Linked DNA regions of Homo sapiens: region 2 is linked to region 1. Evidence: fine-mapped expression QTL. A gene starts in region 1. The other region holds a variant in brackets. All regions are shown on one strand. Distances are from middle to middle.

Evidence for each region. PIP is the estimated chance that this variant, and not a neighbour inherited with it, causes the effect.
Region 2: its variant is the best candidate, but not a certain one, in a credible set for the expression of SRP72 in whole blood (TOPMed, PIP 0.74).

Annotation. Positions count from the first base shown.
Region 1 is chr4:56,464,550-56,469,990 of GRCh38, forward strand. It overlaps SRP72 (signal recognition particle 72), which reads left to right and starts at 3,068. Exons shown (of 19, transcript NM_006947.4): 1 at 3,068-3,195; 2 at 5,104-5,224. The coding sequence starts at 3,087. LOC124900706 (a long non-coding RNA gene) reads right to left here and starts at 3,009. Exons shown (of 2, transcript XR_007058126.1): 1 at 2,543-3,009. PAICS (phosphoribosylaminoimidazole carboxylase and phosphoribosylaminoimidazolesuccinocarboxamide synthase) reads left to right here. Exons shown (of 9, transcript NM_001079524.2): 9 at 1-29. RefSeq lists an enhancer at 2,913-3,122.
Region 2 is chr4:56,491,561-56,496,560 of GRCh38, forward strand. It overlaps SRP72 (signal recognition particle 72), which reads left to right. Exons shown (of 19, transcript NM_006947.4): 16 at 1-8; 17 at 3,797-3,834. Among named protein-coding and RNA genes, the nearest start is that of ARL9, 12 kb to the right of the region's middle. The variant A/G (reference allele first, on the strand shown) is at 2,909.

The sequences.
Region 1 (5,441 bases):
CCAACTAGAAAATAAATGTATTACACTGGGCTGTCTTCTTTGTTGTCAGCTGTATCACAGCAACTGGTGTAATACACGGCACTGGCATATACAAGACAAACACTTGTCAGATGAATAAAAATGCAAATTCCAGGAGGTAGGGGGACACATAACTACATGGAAGTTAGAGGTGAATAGCATGCAAGGGGGCTAGGAAATAAGTATAGAGACCTATGTGAGTTGGGGAGGTGGCAAGCAGAGGCCAGATCACAAAAGCTCTTACTGCTCTTCTTTGGAGTTCGGATTTTATCGTGAGGGTAGGAAAGTGGCATCAGATACATGCTTTAAGAGATCAGTCTGGTTTTTTTCCCACCATGTGAAAACAGAAGATGCCATCTATGAATCAGAGTGGCCCCTCACCAGACAATCTTTCCATCCTTCACAATGTGAGATGTAAATTTGTTATTTAAAAAAAAAAAAACAAAACACCACTATGGTTTGGAAGATTCCTGTTTCAAAAATGGCAGGTTAAGCCCCATATTTATAGGCTGTTTGCCACAAAACTCCATTAAAATGACATAAGAAATAGAAACAAGTCCACAGCAGCAGAATTCTGAGCATTTCTAAAAGCTACAAAGTATATAGGATTAGAATGATATAGAAACGAAAATTGCCAATTCTTATATAAAGTCAATGTTCTAAAAAGTACTACTAGGACAGTGGCTCTTAACTTTTGGGAGGGGATGGTGGATATAAACACCTTTGGAGAATACAGTGGAATCTACATTTTCTCAGAATAACAAAATACAACAAAATTTTGGGTATACCCAATTTTCTCACACAACATTTTGGGTATACCATGTCATCTGGAGCCCCCACCCCCTGAAATCTAAACATAACTGGCTTGAAACCTGTGACAATTCTAGTCAGTAAAAGTCTAAAGCTCTTCTCATGATTTTTACTAATTCACAAGAATTACACCCTCCAGCACCTAGAGTTCAAGCCACCTTTCATGCTCTTTGCATTGTATATACTGGAAGGACCAGACAAAAATATGGCAGGGCACCATATGCCATATCAGGAGCTGGGCAGTTTCTGCCCTCAAGGAACTCAAGATTAGGCAAGGAATGTGAAACAAAAAATGCCAACTATGTGCCAGGCAGTATGCTAGATCCTAGGGATACTGCAGTGAGCAAGGTAAATATGGTTCCTTGGCCTCAGAACTATAGTCCATACAGAGTGAGATAACCCTTAATTATCAGTGCTCAGAAGTGGAGTCCTATAGGGAGTCTCCCAACCTTTTTGGCACCAGGGACCGGTTTCAGGGAAGACAATCTTTCCACAGGAGTTGGACAGCTGGTTTCAGTATGATTCAAGCTCATTACATTTCCCATTAGATTCTCTTAAGGAGTGAGCAACCTAGATCCTTCACATTCCCAGTTCACAATAGGGTTTGAGCTGTGAGAAGCTAATATCACAGCTGATCTGACAGGAGCTCAGGCGGTACTGCTCACTGGCCCACCGATCACCTACTGCTGTGCCGCCCGGTTCCTAACAGGCTGCAGACCAGTACAAGGGTTGGGGACCCCTGTTCTAAGAGGATGCAACCAGAAGGCTGCCCAGTCTGCAAGATCAAATGTTTCCTCAAAGTAACTTTCAACGTATAACCAGAAAGACTGAAAGACAAAAAGTAGTTAGCAAGGCCGGGCACGGTGGCTTACGCCTGTAATCCCTGTACTTTGGGAGGCTGAGAGAGGGCGGATCACTTGAGGTCAGGAGTTTGAGACCAGCTTGGCCAACACAGTGAAACCCCATCTCTACTAAAAATTCAAAAATTAACCGGGCGTGGTGGCTCATGCTACTTGGGAGGCTGAGGCAAAAGAATCGCTTTAACCCAGGAGGTGGAGATTGCAGTGAGGTTCATCCTGGGTCACAGAGCTAGACTACGTCTCAAAAAAAAAAAAAAAAAAAAAAAAAAAAAGCTAGGTTCCTGAGGGACACAGGAAGTAGTAGAAGTTGTAAAGGTCATGACGAGATATGAGTCTGAAGAGCAGGCCATTCAATGAAATACAACATTCACATCAAGTGAATCACTCACATCGTCTTGGTGTGGTGGCTCATGCCTGTAATCCCAGCACTTGGGGAGGCTGTGGTGGGAGGATTGCTTGAGCCCAGGAGTTCCAGACCAGCTTGGGCAACACGGCAAGATCCCCGTCTCAAAAAAAAAAAAAAATCACTCACATCAAGTGTACCCAACAGATATCCATTCCCTTCGTACATCTGAACACATCTTGATATTAACGGTCGCAAGCAAACCCTAATATTTTATATCTCTAGAACAAATATAGTATCCCCATTTCACAATCGGGAAAACAGACTCCCAGAAGCTAAGTAACTTGTTTATTGTCAGACATCTAGTGAGTCGCAGAGCCAGGGAACTGACCACGGGCATTTTCACCCCATTACCCTTCCAGCTTATTGCCGACTGCTCCCGAAGGGAGCGAAAAGGACAGGCAAAGGGTTTCACCAAACCCTTTGTAATGGGAGATTCTTGCCTTCTTACCTTTCCTCACGTTTGCTTCTCTGCCAGAATGTCTTCCCGCACTTTCCCCAGAACCCAAGTTCTCCTAATCATCTTTCAAGATCCCTTTCCCTCAACCACAGATGAGCCGTGCCTATTTCTCCTTCAAATGACTCCCTATGGCTTCTAGTTGGTAGTCTTTTATTTACCACCTCATAGTCCTTTTATTTATATCCCATAAATGATCGTCCGGCCCCGCACCGTGGGACCAGGACGCTGCCTCGACCATGGCGGTCTCCTGGAAACAGGCTGCTTTGAGCCGAAACTGGTGACCGTTTCCCAACCCCGTCCAGGAGTCCGACGCCTCTTTTCTCCAGGCCAACTTCAAGTGAGGTGTATCAACTCTATCCGCACAAATTTCTTGCCACGAGAGCAGAAGATTATGATCTCTGATGCTGCCTTAGGGCTGAAGACACTCCCAACTCGGCGACGCTTAGCAATCATCGACTTCCTCCTCCTCTTGGCTGCCTCGGAGATCCTGTTCCGGGGCAGAGGTCTCCCCGCCCCGCCCCTCGTCTCCTCCAAGATGGCGAGCGGCGGCAGCGGGGGGGTGTCAGTACCTGCGCTGTGGAGTGAAGTGAACCGGTATGGCCAGAACGGCGACTTCACGCGCGCTCTCAAGACCGTCAATAAGAGTAAGTGTCGGGGTGGGCACTGGGGCGGGCCCAGGCCGGCTGGAGGATGCGGCCTGTTTCCGGCGCGCGAGACCACCTCGCGCGGGAGGCACGGGAAGGGGAGACCCCCGAAACCCCCCCGTCTATTGTCCGCCCGGCTCGGGCCCTAGCGCCCGGAAGACGCAGGTCTCACTCCTCGGCTTCACCAGGCCAGCCTGGGGTCCCTGGTTGCTTACAGCCACGTGTACTTCTCTTTTTACCCTCCGCGGGAAGCGAGGGAAGGTTTTAAAGAGACCGCAGCTCCCGGAGTCCATTTCAAACTGTTTTCTTATTTGACTCCTTTGCTGCTTTATTTCACAAATATTCCAAAGTGCCTCCTTTTCTTCTTCGTCTTGAGCGCAGTGATCAGGACTCTATTGCTGAGGGAGCTTGTTCTCTTTGGCCGCTAAAGGGGGAGGAACCTGCTTGGGACACGTAGTTTAGAGGCTGGTGCTAACCAGGTGGAAGCTGTACGGGTTCTACGGGGCGAGAGGAAAGGGCTGGATCTGGATGTCAGGCCTGTCATTCCCATAGATGAGATCTCTTCAGTGTTATTAAGTTAGGAAATATGTGTGTGGAAGCACCAACACTTGAAATAATGTCGGAAGAAAAGTTTGGCCTGTTTTTTTGCCCTGTAAGGGATGATTTCGGTTTTTACCGCCTTTGGTGTGAGGTTTAATTCATCATATTCTTTTGTTCCTTACTACATACCTGGAATATGGCCATGCTGCTTAATGTTCTCGGTGGTGCGCAGTTCTTCTCTACTGAAGATACAGCCTGTGCATGTTAGATTTGGAAATGTAATTACCAAGGCAGGGCTTAGCTGTTCAGAGTAGCAGTAACCTAAAAGGTGTGTCAGTAACATGCAAAGCTATCTAAGTAATTTTCAACACTCTAGTACTGGGTTAACGTGAAAAGTAGTGATTGTGCCCACAGTGCACTTTTGGTGATTTCAGACATTGAGGAAAATAGCTACGAATTAGAATTATTTGATCCCTAAATTTGTTTGAATTAACTCTAGCCTTCCAACCAGTACTGTATACTTAGTATAGTATTTTGCAGGAATTCTTTAATCAGCAAAGATTGTCAACTTGTTTACCAGTATGTTTTCTTAATTGGTAGAAATTCTTGTGATTCTTTGAGAATTGGACTTCTGTAGTTGCACAGGAGCAAGAGTAACTATGATCCTGGTCATTTTAACACCGAACAGTTGTTAGCGTTGAAACTTGCCACCTGAGTTCTTCCTTATACTTTGGTCATCTTAGTTGAAAAGGGGAAATTTTAATGATTTTTGGAAACGTTGCCAGCAAGATAAATTGCCTTTGTATTATACTTTATAAGATTTTTCCAAAATATTCATTTCATATTGTCAGTAACCTTATTAAATAGGTAATGCTTTTCTAATCATTTTGTAGCTAAGAAAACTGAGATTTGGCTGTTAAGTGATATGCCCAATACCTCAAAGCATTTAGTGGCAAGCTTGCACCAAACCTAGGTCATTTGCTTCCAAATTCTACCTGAACTTTTTCCCTGTGAAGTAATGAACTATGTAGAATGTAGCATGCATTTCAAGATGAAATATCTGGAGAAATTGCTTCTTTCTTCTTTATTTCACTGCACTTTTTTGGTACATGTATATTGGGAATCTTTATCTCATTGAAAATTTAATCTATAACTCTCCTTATTGTCACTTCTTAAGTTAAAAGCAAAGATTAGTTGTTTTCTGGGTTTGTTTTGTTTTGTTGCTGTTTCTTCCAGTTGTTCTGACCAATTATTTCTGTTGCAATAAAAGTAGAAATTTAGCTTTCGGAGAGACAGGGTGGGAAAATTTAGTAAAAATGTGAAAAGGAAATGGATTTAAAAATGACTTTTCCTAAAATTGTTCTCTAGTACTACAGATCAACAAAGATGACGTAACTGCCCTGCATTGTAAAGTGGTATGCCTTATCCAGAATGGAAGTTTCAAGGAAGCTTTGAATGTCATCAATACTCACACCAAAGTGTTAGCCAAGTAAGTGATTCAGTTAGTTGCTTGTACAGTTATTAGAAACACTTACTATAGCTATAATCTCTTCCATGTTTTTTCCCAACTATTTGCTGATTTTTTTTAACGTTTTTTTCCTTCCTTTTTTTCCCCCCTTTTGCTTGTCAATAATGTTTCTGAACTGGAAGGAATACTAGTAACTTCTGTTTTTTTCAGCCTTAGAGAGTTTTTTTTTTTTTTTTTA
Region 2 (5,000 bases), 27 kb after region 1:
GAACAAGGGTAATATTTTTCATTGTAACGTTCTCTAATGCTGATTTTAAATTAGACAAGGAATAAAAAATACATTCTCATAGAAATTTCATGTGAATAAAGTTCTAGTTCTCTTTGTTCCTTTTCCATTTCTCTCACTGTGCCCAGCTCTTTGTCCTTATTTCCTTCCCTTTTCCCTCAGCCCAAAATTAACCTCTGGTATTAATTTAATCTATTATTCCAGAAGTTTTTCTTTGTGTTTACACACACAGATGGTTTACAAATATTTTCTTTAAATTGGTTTATTTATTACTATTTTTTTTTTATTTGTTTGTTTGTTGAGACAGAGTCTTGCTCTGTCTCCCAGGCTGGAGTACAGTGGCACAGTCTTGGCTCAGTGCAGCCTCCGCCTCCCGGGTTCAAGCAATTCTGCCTCAGCCTCCCGAGTAGCTGGGACTACAGGCTAATTTTTGTGCATTTAGTAGAGACAGGGTTTCACCCTTTTGACCAGGTTCGTCTTGAACTCCTGACCTCAAGTGATCTGCCCACCTCGGCCTCCCAAAGTGCTGGGCACCACGCCCAGTTATTTTTTACAGAAGGAGGATTGTATTGTACTTAGTGTTTCCCAACTTACTTTTATTTAATGAGTTTTAGAGATCTTTCCACGTACTAAAATGTGGACCTATTTCATCCTTTTTATGCATAACACTCCATAGGCTGGATGTGCCTTCCTTTACCTTTTAGTTATTGTTGTACATTTAGTACATCATTTAGTATATGATTTCTTTTGCTGATTTGAAGAAAAGGTTAGTCGGCTTCATCTACTTAAAAGAAGTCAGATTTTGACTTGTTTCTTCCATCGTCATCTTAAAAATATAGTTAGCAGAGACCTACAGTAAAATGTTTTAAGATTTTACTTTTGACTCAGGATGAATAGAGCATGGAAAAGATAAAACATTTCCTTAGCTTTGTGACTTTTATAAGTTTTTGCTACTTCCTCCTTTTTTGAATGCCTTTTGAAATCTAAATTTTTCCCTAACTTAAAAAAAACTCAGCAACAATGACTGATTTCTTTCTAACAAACTCTGCATTTCATAAAAAGCATTGTTGTTCTCATAATAACTTCCAAAACTTTTAATAAGGAATTGGAGTCTCAAAGAGGTTACATTGTTCCGAATTCCATTTCATCTTACAATTATAAATTCAGTCTGGGTTCTTAAATGGATTTTCAATTAAAGTATGTTTACTATTTTTTTCTTCCCCAAACAGGGTTGAGTAACTACTAAGGACACGCAGTTCCTTCTTTAGCCTGGCATAGTGGCTCTGTGTTCCAGTTACTGGGAGGCTGAGGCGGGATGATTGCCTGAGCCCAGGAGTTTGAGGCTCCAGTGAGCAGTGATTGCATCACTGCACCCCAGCCTGAGTGACAGAGCAAGACCCCCATCTCTAAAAATAATAAGTTTTTAAAAGTTTTTTTAAATAATCTTTGTTTCTTTTGTTTGTTTGTTTTCTTTTTTGAGACGGAGTCTTGCTCTGTTGCCCAGGCTGGAGTGCAGTGACTCAATCTCAGCTCACTGCAACCTCCGCCTCCTGGGTTCAAGCAATTCTCCTGCCTCAGCCTCCTGAGTAGCTGGGACTACAGGTGCCTGCCATCACGCCTGGCTAATTTTTGTATTTTTAGTAGACAGGGTTTCACCATGTCGATCAGGCTGGTCTTGAACTCCTGACCTCAGGTGATCCACCCGCCTCAGCCTCCCAAAGTGCTGGGATTACAGGCATGAGCCACCAAGCCTGGCTTCTTTCTCTTTTTTCTTAGACAATCATTAAGATATACATTGACTTTTTAAGCTTTTAAGTTTCAGCACAGTATTTTCATTATGCATTATTAATGCTCTTTATTTTATCTTATTAGAAGTTAGTATTTTGTTATACTAACTTGGATGCAAAGGTTTAGTTTCCTTTAACAATACACTATGTGATAGGTTTATGCTAGGTGTTGACCAGAAAATAAATCATGGTACTTGCTCTCAAAAGAACTTGAGCCCTGACATGGTGGTGGCTCATGCCTGTAATCCCAGCACTTTGGGAGGCCAAGGCAGGCGGATTACTTGAGGTCAGGAGTTCGAAACCAGCCTGGACAACATGGTGAAACCCCCATCTCTACTAAAAATACAAAAATTAGCCGGGCGTAGTGACACATGTCTATAATCCCAGCTATTTGGGAGGCTGAGGCAGGAGAATCACTTGAACCCAGGAGGTGGAGGTTGCAGTGAGCCAAGATCTCACCACTGCACTCCAGCCTGGGTGACCGAATGAGACTCTGTCTAAAAAAAAGGAACTTGAATCTAGCAGAAGGAAATATATTTAAACAGTAATTGCAATAAAGATTGCACCTGTTGTGATTGTACAGGGCATAGAGGAGTACACCGGAGGGAATAGTCACTTCTTCCTGAGGACAGTGGGAAGTTAGGAAAGGCTTCATGGAGAAGATGATTGTGTTGACTCTGAGGAAGATGAGGACGAGGTAGGCAAAGGGTGAGCTAAGGCAGAGAAATAAGAAATAGCAGAGAACCCTTGGGAAATTTTAGTATGGCTGTGGAGTATAATTTGTAGGGAGACAATTTAGAATACTATTGCACACTGGGTAAGAGATGAAACACTCAAGTAAGATACAGTATGTTGCATTTCTTATTTGGGGTATCCTGAGAGAACGTTCACAATTGAATGACTTGTAGAATGAATTTTTGGTAGGAATTGTTGTCTCATCTTTTTAGTTCACTGTTTCATATTTCTCGAGTTATATCACATAAGAATATATAGAGAGATGTATTTTTATGTTTTTCTCTTTTCACTAGAGCTTTCAGAATGCTTTTTTTTTTTTTTTGAGACGGAGTCTTGCTCCATCGCTCAGGCTGGAGTGCAGTGGCGCA[A/G]TCTCGCTCACTGCAGCCTCTGCCTCCCTGGTTCAAGTGATTCTCCTGCCTCAGCCTCCCAAGTAGCTGAGATTACAGGCACGCACTGCCACACCCAACTAATTTTTGTATTTTTAGTAGAGACGGGGTTTTACTATGTTGTCCAGGCTGGTCTGGAACTCCTGACCTCAGGTGATCCACCTGCCTTGGCCTCCCATCGTGCTGGGATTACAGACGTGAGCCACTGTTCCCAGCCACTTTCAGAATGCTTGACAATTATTTTGAAGTGTTAATTTTTATGCCCTTTTTAGTGCCTTTTTTGGTCAATGTACTTAATATAGATTTTACTTACATAAAAAAATTAATAAACTCACAGGTTTAAAATACAAAAGATAAAAAAGTGTAAGAGTAAGTAAAAAGTCTTCCATCCGTGTCTACCCACCTCCCTCCCAGGGCCATAACCAACGTAACTTGTTTTGAATCTCCTTCCAGAGATATTCTTTGCATGTATCTTACCTACACATGTTCTTCTGGCAAAAAATTTATTCTCTAAAGTCTTGCCAAACATAGAGTAACTTACCAAGGGATTCTAGGTAGTCATGCTTGTGCAAATTACTTTTTACATAGACTTAATGTGTGCCACTGAAAAACTTTTTTCAGTGTAAACAGAATCTGTTTTCGAATTGTCACCTCTGTTTTCTAAACTACTTTCCAAAAATTATAGTATCTGAAGCTTAATTGACTTTAACCTGAATCAAATCTTAACTAATTTGTTAGCTTTGGTAAGCTGATACCAAGTCTTAAACCATGTTTATGATAAGTGCCCAACTAACTCTTATAGAGCACTTACTTAATGCTCTATAAATATTTTATCACAAAGATGGTAATGATTTTTTTTTCTCTTTGTAGACAGGGAGATTTGAAAAAGAAGAAAAAGAAAAAGAAGGGTAAGGCATTAAAAAAGTCTTTATAAATTTTCTCCAAAATAAATGTTTGATTTTAGCCCTATATAGAAATATTTGGACATAAATATACTGCCCTCCCTTGTATCTTTGAAAACTTTTTATCTTGACTATAGCTAACATTTAATTTTATTCTATTACTTTAAAGATCGCAATTCACTAGTTTGCCTAAATTCAAATCGTTGCTCCCTCTTTTACTCTGTGACTGTGGACAGGCTATTTAATATACCTGCCAGAGTTTTTCATATGTAAAATGGAATATGATAGTATATATCTTGTAGTATTAGATACTACATGTAAAGTTCTTAGAGTGGTGCCTGGCACAAAAGTAAGCACTTACACATTTTGATGTTTCTGCTACACATAACTACAAAATTCCATCAAACTAGCTTAAGAAAATTTACTGTTTATAAAGTTGGCAGTCTAGAGGAATGTTAGCATCAAGGTTGGTTGACTCAGTATTTTTACCTCTTTGTTCTGCTCTCCACAAAACAGAATCCCATTAGAGTCATATGATGTATATTGTAAACAGTCAGGGCCACATACTTGTCATTTATATCCATCACAACAAAGAAGCCCTCTCCAGACTTGGCAAGTATTTCTCATTAATCTGATTGGGCCAAGCAGGTCAGTGTCCAGCCTTGAATTATTAACCAGGGAAATAATGTGCATTGATTGGCTTGGAGTGTGGCTTTAATCTCTGGAAAAATTGGGTGGCATTACCGTGCTTGATTTTACCTAGTCAGATGTTATCCTTGGAGCCACCCAAGTTCCTGAGGTTTTGAGGAATCTATCATATAAATCAGGTTATTTCTTGATTTTGCTCTCTGCCGTCTTAGGATACAGGTTTCCCAAGGCTTAGCTCAGTTTATTATTACTCCTCCATCTGTTTTCCAGCTACCAAAATTTTATTGACAATATCTTTTCTTCTGTCTTCCTTTAATGTGTTTTATTACCATTTTAGTGGAGTTTGAGGAAGGTACACAAGCTAATGTTTGTATCCATTTCACTATCTTTAACTGGAAGTCTTATTGGTTCTTTTGTCACAGTACTTGAAAATTGGCAAACATTTAATATTTGTTTTGTGCATTAGTAATACTGCAAGGAAACAGCTGATGACTGTAGGTGGTAATAACCTAAAATTTTACTTT